2 separate regions of the Homo sapiens genome follow, and region 2 is linked to region 1. Evidence: fine-mapped expression QTL. Tissue or cell type: whole blood. Region 1 holds a variant in brackets; the other region holds the start of a gene. All regions are shown on one strand. Distances are between the middles of the regions.

Region 1 (8,111 bases):
TCATGCCTATTTTTAAATCACCATATGTACCCTTCTTCCCACATATAGAACACACTTATGCTCCTTTCCTGGGGATGCATTAAAGTCTTATGTTACATCAGCTTAAAGTTCAGGGCTTCTGAGTGATAGACAGTTCTGTTTACCACTTCCAAATGTAGTCCCTCATGGTCTGGGAATAAATGAAAACAAAAAACACAAGATATATATATCTTCACTTCAAAGTATAAAGTGGATGATTAGGGGCAGGCTGACTGGCAACAATAAACTCCTCCCATTTAGAAAGAAAACAGGAGGAATACAATGGTAGATTGGCCATAGCAGTGACAAACCTTCCTTGATAGGCTATGTGGAGTCGCCTGCCCTGGATTTACAGGGAAGTTCCTGATTAGTCCCTGTGTCTGGACTCTGGGAGAAACTCCCTTATCCATCATTTTCTGAGGATCCTGGCTTTACCCTCTGGATGTTCTTCATTATTATCCTCCTTGGCTGCATCTGAAAAGGATGATGAGAAGGGTACCTTCCTGGAGAAGGTACGTATTTCAAGTCTTTTCAATAATGCAAGTTTGGAAGCCAGAGAGTCATTTTAATATCACATATTTAATTAAATCACTCATAATTTATTTGACAAATGCAATATCCTCAGCAACATATAAAGTTTTTAATCTACTTGCTTCTGGTCAGTTCCATCTTACCCTACAAAAATTTCCAAAATGGTTGTCCTTACACAAATGTTTCATGTCTGTATAAATAAGAAAATAGATAAACATTTTTCCCTTACTTATCCCAGGCCTCTTTCTTTCACTTTGGTGGCAGTTATCTTGAAGGCATTCGAAACAATGGTCTCTATGTTTAATTGAAAAGTCTTAATGGGCCTCTTAATTTTTTTTTCAGTCTCACTTATTGCTGTTTGATACCCCAAACCGGTGAGATTTTATACCCCTCTGAAACCTTAGATTTCTGAACTCTCTCTTGCTCTTAATTCTTATTTGCAAACCAGTCAATTCTTTTCCTTTCTCATCTTCTCATAATATCTTGCTAAAATATTTTGGAGAACAACCCTGGCACACCGTTTTGACTTTCATCAACCACTTCCCCTAGGGCCAGAGACTCATTAAACATGGCCTTCTTCTAAGTTATTGCATATAATGTTTTTAAAAAGTTTGCTTATACACCACATGTGCCATCGTGTTGCCAGTCTCCAAGATCTGTTCCTTCACTATCCAAATCCTCTAAACAAATTCTCCCACTTTCAGTTCCAATTTCTGTGTTAGACTGGGTAGACAAACTGCATCACAAATAGCTCCAAAATGTAAAACGTTTCAAACAATATGATTTAATTTTGTTCTTTTAATGGTACTGATATGTCTGAGTAACCTTCCCTATGTAGTTATTCACTAAAATAGGCTGATCACTTGGTGACCTTTAACACATAGCTTCCAAGATTGCCTTGGGGTCACCTTATTCCAGGCAGCCAGGAGCAGAAAAGGTGCATGGAGGAGGATGCATGGCAAATTTTTATGGGACGGGCCTGGAAGTAGTGCACATAATTTCCACTCACATTACATTGTTCAGCTTTTAGTCACATTGCATCTGTAAGAGAGGCTTGGAAATATAGTCTATATGCTTAGAAAAAAGAGTAGAACATGAAATTTAGGACATGGAAGTTGGAGAGTGCATTTTGCTTAAAATAGCCATACAAATGTGAAACAAAAAAGTTCCTGCCTATAGATGCATGGTATAGCTTGTTTATGTCACTTTTGTAGTTTGAAAGTGCCCTTAAACCTGTCTTGAATATTAGTTCTTTTCTTCTTTTTCATAAATTCTAAAGAATTCCAGGGCCAGGCGTGGTGGCTCACACCTGTAATCCCAGCACTTTTGGAGGCTGAGGCAGGAGGATCACGAGGTCAGGAGTTTGAGACCAGCCTGCCTGGCCAATATGGTGAAACCCCGTCTCTACTGAAAATACAAAAATCAGCTGGGCGTGGTGGTGCTCGCCTATAGTCCCAGCTACTCGGGAGGCTGAGGCAGAAGGATCGCTTGAACCTGGGAGGCGGAGGTTGCAGTGAGCTGAGATTGTGCCACTGCAGTACAGCCTGTGTGATGGAGTCTCACTCTGTCTCAAAAAAACAAACAAACAAACAAACAAACAAAAATTCCAGTTCAAACTGAATGTCCCTAACCTCAGAGAACTATAGTCAATTCTTCACTGAAGCATTTGTATCTTCCTCGTCTTTAATTCTGGTATATTTTGTTTATTCTTTTTAGCTCCTGTAACATTGCATACAAATTATTTATATTAATAGTTTTAGGACTTGGGTGAAATTCTTGAATTATGAATAATTTTAGGGACTTATTTCTATAAATCATATTGCATCAACAAAAATGCTTGGTATGTAGAAGGATGTTACTGAATGAGAGACAAATAATTACTGAAATAAATGTTATTTCTAACAATTTCTATTCAAAATTTAAGATATTTGTATTCAAGTGGTATGGCTCAGGGGAGATGAAAATGCAAATTAGTGAAAAATGATCTCTCATTTTTGCATGTTTACATACTCGACTTCGCTTCTTTAGTCATTACCATGAATGGAAAATTGTGGCTGATGCTGAAGATAAATAGACATCATTAGTGTTTGTTCTAGAAATTATATAGTAGCTGACTGAAAGTGGTAAGAAAGGTATTCATGAAGCTTTGTATCTCTTAACAATTTGGTTTAGTACCGGAGTTACAATATAAATAGAACAAACTATTTTTTTCATGAAGATCTCTGAACATATATCTGAATTTGGCTATGCCTTCTGAAATTGTGATGAAAACATAGATAGAAAGCATCATAAATGCATGCCCATCTGCAACTGTTTGACTATAAAGCTGTCAGTGAAGTAGAATATCGGAAATATTTTCATAGAAATGTTCGTTGGAATTAATATTTTCTTTCTGGTGGTGGCAACAAGAGGACTTGTCTTAGGAATGCTGGGAAACGGGCTCATTGGACTGGTAAACTGCATTGAGTGGGCCAAGAGTTGGAAGGTCTCATCAGCTGATTTCATCCTCACCAGCTTGGCTATAGTCAGAATCATTCGACTGTATTTAATACTATTTGATTCATTTATAATGGTATTGTCCCCTCATCTATATACCATCCGTAAACTAGTAAAACTGTTTACTATTCTTTGGGCATTAATTAATCAGTTAAGTATCTAGTTTGCCACCTGCCTAAGCATTTTCTACTTGCTTAAGATAGCCAATTTCTCCCGCTTATTTTTTGCCTGGCTGAAGTGGAGAATGAACAGAGTGGTTCTTGTGCTTTTCCTGCGGTCTTTGTTCTTATCGTTTGTTTACCTTTTTATGTCCAATGCCATTAGTGAGTTGTGAAAAAAACATGACTTTGCACTCAGATACAAGTAAAATAGTCT[G/A]TCTTCAAGGCCTTAGGCTTCTCAGCTTGACATACGTTATTCCCTTTCTTCTGACTCTGACCTCTTTGCTCCTTTTATTTATATCCTTAGTGAGACACACCAAGAATTTGCAGCTCAACTCTCTGGGCTCAAGGGACTCCAGCACAGAGGCCCATAAAAGGGCCATGAAAATGGTGATAGCCTTCCTCCTCCTTTTTTTTATTAACTTTATTTCCACTTTAATAGGAGATTGGATCTTCCTTGAGGTAGAGAATTATCAGGTCATGACGTTTATTATGATGATTTTACTTGCCTTTCCCTCAGGCCACTCATTTATTATAATTTTGGGAAACAACAAGCTAAGACAGAGCTCCTTGAGACTACTGTGGCATCTTAAATTCTCTCTGAAAAAAGCAAAACCTTTAACTTCATAGACAAAATTTAACTTTCTGCATCTATGAAAGAAATAACTTAATAGAAGACCTCATAAGTTAATTTTATATTTAACAATTTCTTTTTTGGAGTCCTTTTAAGTGTTGTTAAATAATTCTGAAATTTTCCTTAAAATATTCACTAACCATATTTTCTCAAAGTTGCCGGACATAATGTCTGATTCAAGGAAATGTCTCTACTATAATAATGCCTGCTAATAACAATAGAGTATGTGAGACTTGGAGAAAAAGATAAACATTTATAATGGAATATAAATAAATGCACATATGATATACAAGGCAATATGAATAAATATATATAAAATCACAGAAAAAAGTGTAATGTAATTTTTTGAACAAAAAATTATAAATACAGTAGGGAAAAAATTATAAAATGTTAAGTATAATTAAGTAAGTTTGTTAAAGCATAATATATATCAGTGTAATGCTTGGATATGTTTGTGGATGTGTAGTGCTACTTTGACTACTGTAATAAAATAACCCAGATGTAATCACAGTAGCTGGGAATGTAATGAAGCAGTTAAGAGAATTTTGCTTGCAAATGATGTTACTAAAATATGAAATGAAGATCATGTATTATTTTAATAGAGGAAATGGATATGTCCATATGAAAGAAAAAAAACCCAGCACTGTTGTTTGAGGTAACTTTTACCATAATTTTAAAAATGGAATAAAGGGAAAAAATAGCTGGTAAATCATGGGAAGTATGTTGGTTTTATATTAGTCTTCATGAAGTAGTAGGTGAAAATATTCTTCCAGGTTAAGCCCTGATGCAGAGAATGGTGTAAGAATGATAAGGCCATAGGGAAGAATTGTTGTTTTCTCCAGACAAAATGAACTCTTCCATTCAGGAAATTAGAGTGAGGTCACATCTATCACATTTATCAGGTAGGGTTCTCTCATTTAGCTATTAATATCATCATCACCACCACCACCACTATCATCATCATATATTTCATTTAACTATTTGTTTTTTAAATGTTTACATGCACGATTTGGAGAATGTCTAGGTAATTTCCTAAAGATTATTATTGTGGGTAAGTTGCATTATTAAAGAGCAAGGCTTATGTGAAACTTAATACATTTAGAGTTAGAAGTTGAGTGTATTTTTACTTAAAATGCATTGCTTGAACAAATGATTTATAAATAATCTTAAACTCATCAGAGGCTAACTACCAGAAATATTTAGTTTTTAGTGTAAATAGCATTTGTATAATAAGAGAGATAAAGTCAATAAACCATTTTATAATTAAACTCTTATTTCAAAAGAGAGGCTTTAAAAGTCAATGAACCAAACAGAAATAAGCCCTCACATCTTCAATATCATACTCTCTTGATGATGGACTTGTAAGGCACAAAGCCCCATGTCTAACAGTGTAAGGAGAGTAAAAGGACTACTTAAATATTAAGCCATGTTATAAGATGGTGTTGCTGTGATTGATGTATTATCTTTTATTTATGGTAATGGCATTTTGAGATCAAGTTCTGCTCCTTGAATTTTCATGTAATAAGAGTCTGTGGTGAAGATGCAGCAACAGAGAAGCTGCTACTTGCATCAAATTTATTTTTAGTTCTTTTCAACTTGGTTAAGAATGATTAGACTCACACTTTTATTCTATTCTTGACCAAAGTGTGGGTAATCCCAGCACTTTGGGAGGCTGCGGCAGGCAGATCACGAGGTCAGGAGATCGAGACCATCCTGGCTAACATGGTGAAACCCCATCTCTACTAAAAATACAAAAAAATTAGCCGGGCATGGTGGCGGGTGCCTATAGACCCAGCTACTCGGGAGGCTGAGGCAGGAGACTGGTGTGAACCCAGGAGGCAGAGCTTGCAGTGAGCCAAGATCGCGCCACTGCACTCCAGCCTGGGTGACAGAGCAAGCCTGCGTCTAAAAAAAAAAAAAAAAAAAATTGGTGTTTTCTTTGACCAAAGTGTGGGTAAAAGAAGAGAATTATTGGTATTTTCTTGTCAAGTTTACTAAAAGTTTTTAAAAAATCTTTAAGAATTTGGTATTATGAGTATTTTATTTATCCATAGAAATAACTTACAGAAATAGAGTGAAAGTTTCTTTCTACCACCAAAATAATGACTGAAAAAATTAATATTAAGAATTCAATATTTAACAATCAATTAGATTTAACAATCAGTTAGAAATGGTAGAATAAAGAATTAGTGAATTGGAAGATAACTACACAGAGTGAAGCATAATTAGACAAAGAGATGGAAAAATACAGGCTAAAGGGGAAGAGCATTGAGGCTACAGTCAGAAAGGCTTAACATACTTTTGGAGTTCTGGAAGATTAGAAGAGAGAATGTAGGGAAGAAGTAATGTTGCTGAGACCTTTCCAAAAATAATAAAATGTATCAATCCATACATTCGAGAAACCAACAAACCTCAGACAAGATAACTGAAAACAAATTAACATATAAATGCTACAGGAAACCAAAGACCAATAGAAAATTTGAAAAGTAGCCTGAGAAAAAAGATAGATTATGTTGAAAGGATCAACTGTTTGAATGACAACTGATTTTCAGCAGAAAGCATGGAAGCTAGAATTCAATGTAATATATTTTCAGTGCGTTTCAAAGGAGTAGCAGACATTTCATAAACAGAAATTCAAAAGGATACATTTTCAGATAGAAAAAAGTTACTGAAAATACAAAGTTGAAGATGCAAGAAGGAATGAAAATAAAGGCAATGGCAAATGTGCGTAACTAAAAGGACTATTGACTGTATAGAACAATAATATCTTGTGTTAAAAGAGGTAATGAATAAAATGTATGCCAATAACATATAGACTGGGGTGAAGGTGAAAAGATTAAATTTAGTTTAATTATTATTTAACCTTTTCATTGTCTGTGAAGAGAGTCTGAGTATCAAATTCAATGCATATACTCTAGCTATATATCCAAGAGAAGTGCATTGAATGACATGTAAAATAATGCCCATGGTAGTATTATTTGTAATTGTTCTAAAAAGAAACAGCTCAAATACCTATAAATTAAGGAAGGATTAATAATTATAGCAAATTCATATAATGGAACAATATAGAGAAATTGAAAGCAATGAACCACATGTACATGCAACAAAGTGGATACATTTTATCAACATAATGCTTAAAAAAAGAAGTCATAAACAAGAAGAAAATATATTAAGGTTGTATTTATAAAGAGTTCAAAAATGAGGCAAACTCAAATCAATTTCTGCAATAAACGAATCATCTTGAAAATTGTATTTACAACTTCACAACTTCCTGTGTTAAAGTCAGGAAATTTTCTTTCTATATGTCACATAAAATTCTAGTTTTGATTTTTAACAACTGACCTAATTGGTTTCTAATGTTCTAGAAAAGACTTATAATCATTTTTCCAGGTTTCTGTACCTTCTCTGGTTCTCTGGTTTTCAAGTGAGAAAAGCTACACCTAAGCACCCCCATGAATTATACTGGAAAGTTTTCCACCTCTCTTTTTTGAGCAGAGATTTAGGAAAGTTGGCATTTGGATCCAAGTGACCCAAGCTTTAGGGCAGAATGAAAATTGCAAATCAGTGCAAGTTACTTTTTCTCCTATTTGCATGTAATCAAAGTTGAATCCAGCCCTTCAATCAAAATTACAGATCGAGTGTTACTGCCTGGGATTGGCAGAACTGTTTGATAGGAATGAAAATGTTTTTATGTTAATATAAAATTTGTGCCCACATGTATGAAGGATTTTTCTATTAAAACTCTACAATTAAGCAGAAGATGTGACACACTGCAAGAAATATGGCACCATGAAACTAACTACAACTGTATACTATTGGGGCTCAGAAAATGATACTGAAAATATATCGCTCTTTGACTAAACAGGAAGCCTCAAATTCTCTGTCTGAAGTTTTCCCTTCTGTCTGTGTCTCTGATCCTCTTTCCTGAAGCACCAGAGGGAATTCTCTCTGGAATTTCCTTATCTGATTAAGAAAATTTCTTTCCAGAAGAAATGCAATTTTTAAAAGACTCCTTGTCTAGGAATCTCATCAAATGACCAGGATAAGATACTGGATCAAATAACCACTGGATAAGATACTTGGAGTTGTCAATATGCCTAGACAGACTTTTCAGTTGTTCTTTTGAAGGCAGCTCCAAGAGATTCCCTGGGTGACTTCATCTGCATAATAAGACAACCTTTGTTCACAGTGAAGTTCTGGCCCTAACCTTCCCTCCACCTCCCCTAGAGCTCAGAGGAAATTTGTCCTAGGCCATTGCTCTTTAGATTATGCAT
Region 2 (8,111 bases), 160 kb after region 1:
TTCTCCCATCCTGCCCCAAGTCATCAGCCCACACAGGTTGCTGGCACATCTAAAGTGAGAATTTTAGGACTAAATAAATCAAATAGAAGTAAGCCCTCACATCTTCTATATCTCACCTGATAGTGAAGAAGTTTGAAGGTACAGAGCTCCACTTCTGCTAATAAAAAAAGAGTAAAATTTAATTTGTAAAATAGAATGGTGTAGCTAGGGTTGAGGTGCTATAATTTATTTATTGGAATGGCATCTTGAGATCCAGCACAGCTCATTGAATTTCCCTGTGGGGAGAGTTTGTGGTGAAGACTCATCAACAGACAAGCTGCTATCCCCCCCTAAAAAAAAAAGCTACTAACATCACATCAATTTCCAGGTTCTTCCAACTTGCGGAAGGATGTGTAGACCAAGCTTTTATTCTATTTTGTGACCAAAGTCTTGGGAAAAGAAGAAAATTGTTAGCATTTTCATGTCAAGCATACGAAAAACAAAAAAACAAAGCCAACCAACTGAACAAAGAACCCAACTTTTTTTAAAAAACTTGGTGGTAAGAGTGCTTTGTTCTGCTTCTCCATAGATAATGATTTATAGAAGGAGAACAAAATATAATTTCTGCTACTAAAACAATAATAGCAAAAAATAAATAATCAATATTGAGAATCCAATAGACAGAGTTAACAACCAGTTAGACATAGAAGAGAGAATTAGTGAATTGGAAGACAACTATAAAGAAAGAAGCCTAAAGAGACCACAAGACAAAGAATGCCAAGCTAAGAGGATAAGAGGCATTGATGCTACAATCAGAGCATCTAACATACTTCTGGATTTCTGGAAGATTAAAAGGGATAAAATAGGGCAGAATCAATGTTGTGGAGATTTTCCCAAAAGTGATAAAATGTATTAATCCATATATTTTTAGTAACCATCAAAGGTCAGACAAGATAACTAAAAACAAATTAACATAAAATGTCACAAGACATCAAAGACCAGTAGAAAATCTGAAAAGTAGCCAGAGGAAAAGATAGATTATTTTAAAAGGAACAACTTTCTAAATGACAACCTGATTTTCAACAGAAAAATGGAAAGTAGAATTCAATGGAATCATGTCTTTAGTGTGTTTCAAAAGAATAGAGGACCTTCATAAACAGAAATCCAAATGATATTTTTCAGATAAAAAATATTGAAAATACAAGGTTAAGCATGCAAGAAGGAATAAAAATTAACAGAAATGATAAATATGTGCATAATTCTAAATGAATGTTGACTGAATAAAATAATAGCGTCTTGCTGAGTTAAATATATTATTGATAAGATATATGCAAATAGCGATAAAGAGACTGGAGGTAAAGGTGACAGGAACAAATTTAGATAAATTATTTTTTGCACTTTTCTATGTCTGTGAGGATAATTTGAACACCACATTTAATGACCCCATAATAGGAATTGCATCAAATGATATGTGAAATAATGCTGATAGTAGTATTATTCATAATAGCTCAAAAATAGACTGCCCAAATATATATTAACTAAGGATGATTGAATGATATGAAAGATTACAGTAAATCCATACAGTGGAACAGTATATAGAGGTGAAAAGAAATGAATCACATGTACATGCAACTATGTAACTAAATTTCAGAAACATGATATCTAGTGCAAGAAGCCATGAACAAGAAGAACACACAGGACTGCACCTATACACAGTTCAAAGCAGGACAGACCAAGCTGTGGAGTTTAGGGTTGTGAACCTAGCTGGTAAAGTATAAAGAAATTCAAGCAAATGATCATCATAGATTATGAATATTGCTTATCTCAGGAGATGTGAATAAAGGTTTAGGGGCTTGGAAAGTGGCCTGGAAGTGGACCTAGTCTGTTTGCAGTGTTCCATGTCTTATCCTGCATGATGGTTACATAAGTGTTTATGATACATTGCTCTTACCTATTTTTGTTTTGGCCCATTTCTAAGTGTGCATTATAATTTTATTTAAAAAATTACAAATTGGGAGAAATGTCACGTAAAAATTATTAATTGCTCTGCTCATTATATACCTAGGGGGAAAATCCACCATTTACGTACATTCTTATACAACTCAAGAGAGCTAAAGTGAATTCTTATTTTAGTTGCAAAATGGAGAAATTTGAGATGCTGTTACCTACAGCCTCCAGATCTTTCCAAAAGTTTTCTTCTAGTTTTAGATATTCACCTCATATTACAAAAACTTTGATATTTCCAACCTATTTTTCCTTTGGCTCCTGAATTTCTGACACAACAAGGGCGCACATATTTCTCAAACTCTTGGATTAGCAGAGTACCTATATCACTTAGCTTTTTCTGCAAAAGAAACTTCTCCAAAACCACATTAGATATTTATATCTCACATGTTTTTGGATTCTGTTTTCTTAAGCTGGGGTTTGGTGGATGGCTCTGGTGATTTGAGATGGTCCAAGTTTTGCCTCTTGGATCTAGTTAGAGTTTGGCCGATTTAAGGCTGGATCAGGCAGGAGCCATATGATTCCATGAGTTACTCATTCTTATTCTGGGAACAGTGTGTTAGTGTGGACATGTTCTCATTATAAACCGGAAAGGAACAAGAAAGCCTAATGTGGAGGTCATCTCAAATTTCGATGTAAAGTGTAGTAATTTTCTGTTCATCAAAGCAAATTACATGATCGAACTCAGAGCCCTAGTGCAAGGTTGTCACTATGCCTGTGGTGGGAGGACACTGCAAAATTATGTGACAAAGGTCTGGTACTCAGGAATGTTTACAAGCTTGCAGGTAGCATTACCAAAAGCCTAAGCATGAGAGATATGTTTCATGAATATTATTCATTGGCTGAAAATCTGGCATGGGAAAAATAGGACTAATTCCACCAGGACGAGCTCCTGGAAACTCATTTTCCATGTCATAAGTTACAAGAAAGCAATTCCTTCCATCCTTGAAGAGTGAAAGTGTGTGTGTGTCTGTGTGTGTGTTTATGAGCTTGTTAATAGTGATGCCATATAGAAGTATTGGTTAACAGCAACCAAATTATAAGGAGTATTGGCTTTCCTGTGGTTTCCAAGAAAATCTTAGGTGATTTTGATAAAAAGTTTAGATTCTGTGTATTTAAATCTGGCTTTAAAAATAAATCCATAGTGATTTTGATCCTAGATTTCACCAGGCTCTTTTAACAATATATTTTTTGTGTCATCTATGTACTGGGTATTAAAATTTCCCCAACAACTGAAGGGCTGAACACAAATTATGGAAAGGTGAAACAAGGAAAAAATTGCAAAGCAATGAAAGAGGATATGTCTTTATTTGAATGCTAGCAAATGAGAATTCAGCTTTCCCTTCAACATCAGTATGAAAAATTTCAGCCTATAGCAAGAATAGAGACTTTATGAATAAGAATTAATTTGAGTTGTTTTGGGACTAACAGTATTTCCCATAAAGGCAGCATTGAACTCATTCATTAGTTTAAGCTGGTGCTTTTCTGTTGACATTGTTCACAGAATTTAAAAGTATAAAGAATGTTATTGGACATTCAGGAATCAAGTGCATATTTAACTTAAAGTCTTGAATATCAGAGGAGTCACCATCAGTGACATTAGGCCTGAATTTTTTACTTGCTTTTTTGTTTAGACATGATGAGTTTTCTACACATTGTTTTTTCCATTCTAGTAGTGGTTGCATTTATTCTTGGAAATTTTGCCAATGGCTTTATAGCACTGATAAATTTCATTGCCTGGGTCAAGAGACAAAAGATCTCCTCAGCTGATCAAATTATTGCTGCTCTGGCAGTCTCCAGAGTTGGTTTGCTCTGGGTAATATTATTACATTGGTATTCAACTGTGTTGAATCCAACTTCATCTAATTTAAAAGTAATAATTTTTATTTCTAATGCCTGGGCAGTAACCAATCATTTCAGCATCTGGCTTGCTACTAGCCTCAGCATATTTTATTTGCTCAAGATCGTCAATTTCTCCAGACTTATTTTTCATCACTTAAAAAGGAAGGCTAAGAGTGTAGTTCTGGTGATAGTGTTGGGGTCTTTGTTCTTTTTGGTTTGTCACCTTGTGATGAAACACACGTATATAAATGTGTGGACAGAAGAATGTGAAGGAAACGTAACTTGGAAGATCAAACTGAGGAATGCAATGCACCTTTCCAACTTGACTGTAGCCATGCTAGCAAACTTGATACCATTCACTCTGACCCTGATATCTTTTCTGCTGTTAATCTACTCTCTGTGTAAACATCTGAAGAAGATGCAGCTCCATGGCAAAGGATCTCAAGATCCCAGCACCAAGATCCACATAAAAGCTCTGCAAACTGTGACCTCCTTCCTCATATTACTTGCCATTTACTTTCTGTGTCTAATCATATCGTTTTGGAATTTTAAGATGCGACCAAAAGAAATTGTCTTAATGCTTTGCCAAGCTTTTGGAATCATATATCCATCATTCCACTCATTCATTCTGATTTGGGGGAACAAGACGCTAAAGCAGACCTTTCTTTCAGTTTTGTGGCAGGTGACTTGCTGGGCAAAAGGACAGAACCAGTCAACTCCATAGATTCACAAGAGGTGCATTGTGTGTTTTCTAGCAGAAAACAAATTGATGGTGTCTGGAACATTTTATATTTCCCACAAGTTTTTCCGTAGTCTATGTATTTGAGTAATTTCCAAAAGTTGACATAGAAAAGTCTTTTACCTAAGTTTATTATATAAAAGTATATATATATAATATACATTTGCGTGTGTGTGTATGTCTGAATGTATATGAAAATTTAATATTTACCATAACATACCTTTAATCAACTTTTCATATAAACTGTTCAGTTATACCAAAGTAGGATAAGAAATTTCTCAGAATTATGAACCCATGTGTATTTCACACATTTTTTTATATGATATTTCATTTGAGGAATTTATGATCTCTATTTATAATTAAGAACTGACAGCTTATATCAGAAAATCATTGCTGTTTTTCGTTGTAAAATCATTGCTGTTTTTCGTTGTAATTTGTATCACGTATATGTACCATAGTGTGTTTAACTGTTTAACTATCATTGTTTGAACCTCTAATTTTTTGGATGGTAAGGACATTTAATTCTAAATCGATGAGAATGTGTCTTTGGGGTAGGTTTTTTTGTTTTTTTTTTAATCATGAATTCTTTTTTTCTTTTTTTTGAGATGGAGTCTTGCCCTGTTGTCCAGGCTGGAATGCAGTAGCACAATCTTGGCTCACCACAACGTTCACCTCTGGGGTTCAAGTGATTTCCATGCGTCAGCCTCCTGAGTGGCTGGGACTCCAGGCATGCGCTACCACACGTGGCTAATTTTTTGTATTTTTCTTTTTTTTTTTAGTAGAGATGGGGTTTCACCATGCTGGCCAGGCTGGTCTCGAACTCTTGACCTCAAGTGATCCACTGCCTCAGCCTCCCAAAGTGCTGGGATTATAGACATTCATGATGAATTCTTATTTTATGTTTAATATAAAGCAAATACAATTATTGTTAGATAACAATGCACAAAATAAAATTCAAGGGTGAAAAATATATCTAGTGTACATTTTTATGTGTATCAAAAGCAATACTGAGGAATATTATATTTAATATAGTATGTTAATAGCTTAGAAAAAATCATTTCTATAAAAAGGATGAAGAAACATGATCATGAGCTCTTTTCAGTGCTGTTATAAGTTTCCATACGCAATTAGAAAAGTCATCTCTTCCAGTTTTTGAATTAAACAAAAACCTTTTTGAAGTTGAGATCTGATGTTATATATTTCAGTTTTTTGTCTAAGCCACCTCTGAGCTCCTGAATTGTCAATTTCCTCCTTTATCTTCCATCCTTAAAATTCCTCAAAAAGCTCAAATTTTCCTTACTTTAAAAAGAAGCTCAATCTAAAGAGGGTATAGAAACTATGGCATCTATGAAATCTATATATTAATGATAGGAAATGTCTTAAAGATATGTTTTATTATAATCTTGGTGTAAATAATGAAATGAGAGAAAGTGTGTTGACATATTCACTAATAGCAAGTTCTATTACAAGAAGAAAATGTATAACCTAGTTCAACAGCTAAATTCTGTGTGACTGTATTAATTTCTGGTGTTATGCAATTTTAACAATATTATCTAAACCTTAAGATAAATCATCTCCACATCTGATTTGTTTGTTTATCATATATCTTACCTGGTACAATGTAAATACCATAAAAGTAGAGATCATATAGATCTTGCTTACTGTAGACTCCCAAGACATAAAGATAGCACATAGAATAGGTATTGAAAAATGATACTTTGATGAACAAGTTAATTGGTGAATGAATGAATATGAACTATATTGGGGTGGTGAACCAATGAAAATGTAACACATCACAAAATCTACAGTTGGGTGCACATTTCTGTTCTGGTTTCAGATTGAAGTTACAGGATTATCCAAGAAGAAGAAGAATTTCTCAGAGCAAAAGTTTGGCTATTCCACAATTCTAGGGGAAATATCACTATAATATAGCAGTGATGCAGCTATATCAGATGTGTGACACAAAGACAAAGTGGAAAATAAAAAGATGGCATTTATTACAATACTTTTTACTAAGCATATAAAAGATTTTTGTATAAGTGCACATATCTTTTCTATTGCGAATGATATATTTATATTGTGGTATTTCTAGCTGGTTATTATATAAACAAAAATGACATTTCATTTAAAAAATTTAGTTACCAACTATCTTACTAAAATATAATCTTTATTTAGTATTTTTAATATCCTTTCTAAATGACCACTTTAATCACCATATTATAAACTGATGGAAAAATGAATGAATAATAATTATAACACTGAATGAATATCTTATCAGGGGTCTAGAAGTAGAGCAAATGTCTGATATTAAAGTGATGACATTTATTTGGAAGGAGGTCCACTGCAGAAATGGCTGGGACATGTGGAAATTGAGTCAAGAGAAGATGTGACACTATGTGCTGTAATGTGTGATATGACTCTGCTGACGACCACTTCACAATGATGTGAGAGAGACAGCATGGTGGTTATCAGATGCATGCACTTGGCTCCCAGGACTTTTTCAGAAGGGCTGCGAGAGGACAACACAGCCAGCATTAGCCCATGGAAGCAACAGAGGACGGAGAATATATCTGCTCAGCTGTCTTCTGTCTTCTATTTCCCACTGGCCAGGGTTTCCCTGAGGCAGAACTACCATCTCTGCTGTTCTGCTTTCCATCATCCAATCCCTTGATGGAGGTTATGAAAGTCAGACCTCATGCCCACAATGTGGTGATCCATTCAAGTCCCAAATGGAAGGGTGATGTGGGTCAGGCAAGGTGCTGACCAGGGGAATAGGAGACAGTCAAGTAAATCTGAGGAAGCACATGTTTGTGTCCCATGCAGTCCACTCCTTGTGCCATTCAGATGTGCTCATGCCCTCCAATCATGGCTGACTATGAGCATATAATTTCCACTGTTGCACAGGGTCTTGTGCTTAGAGACGCACACGCTTAGAAGGGCTTTATACATGGGTTAATTTTCTGCACCTGCTGTTTTGTTTTTGAGACAGAGGGCACTCCTCTGCTAAAGAGGGAATGGTCTTGCACTAATTGGCTAGGGGTTTGCTCTCCCCTCTCCTGTGGGCTTGTGAGAAGCATGCACAGAGTCTTATAATGCCCACTATGCATGCATGCCTCTAGCGGGTTTGAATTCTGCTGGATTATCTGTCACAATGAGCACAGCAGCTTGGACTAGAGCCTACATTTGCTAGAGGCATTTTTTGTTCTAGTTCCACTTGAGACCAGTAGCCTTTGGCAACTTCATTAGTGAATCAGAGCAGTATCCTCAAATGTGGAATACGTTGGCTCCCAAATCCCAGTAGGCCCAACAAATATTGTGTCTCATTTTTAGTGACAGGAAATAGATGTATAGAGAGCAACATGCTGTTTACTTTAAAAGGGTGTTTCAGCATGTGGACTAGGAGCACTGGACCCCTAAAATCATCATCTATGTTATAGGTCACTGAATCTTCTTGTTCATCTTTCTTCTTCTGGTATTTAGTTCTGTTCAATGTTATGGTATTTTACTATATTTGAGAAACTCATCACTTCCTGCTTATGGGTAACAG

Evidence for each region. PIP is the estimated chance that this variant, and not a neighbour inherited with it, causes the effect.
Region 2: TAS2R20 starts here. The variant in region 1 is fine-mapped to the expression of TAS2R20 in whole blood (INTERVAL, PIP above 0.99).

The regions. Positions count from the first base shown.
Region 1 is chr12:11,154,498-11,162,608 of GRCh38, reverse strand. All of the region lies in intron 1 of PRH1-TAS2R14 (PRH1-TAS2R14 readthrough), which reads left to right. The region is part of intron 1 of PRH1-PRR4 (PRH1-PRR4 readthrough); the gene reads left to right. It also overlaps a transcript of PRH1 not described here and the pseudogene TAS2R18P. Among named protein-coding and RNA genes, the nearest start is that of SMIM10L1, 13 kb to the left of the region's middle. The variant G/A (reference allele first, on the strand shown) is at 3,421.
Region 2 is chr12:10,993,384-11,001,494 of GRCh38, reverse strand. TAS2R20 (taste 2 receptor member 20) reads left to right here and starts at 3,191. Exons shown (of 1, transcript NM_176889.4): 1 at 3,191-5,534. The coding sequence starts at 3,620. The coding sequence ends at 4,549. All of the region lies in intron 3 of PRH1-TAS2R14 (PRH1-TAS2R14 readthrough), which reads left to right. The region is part of intron 3 of PRH1-PRR4 (PRH1-PRR4 readthrough); the gene reads left to right. It also overlaps a transcript of PRH1 not described here.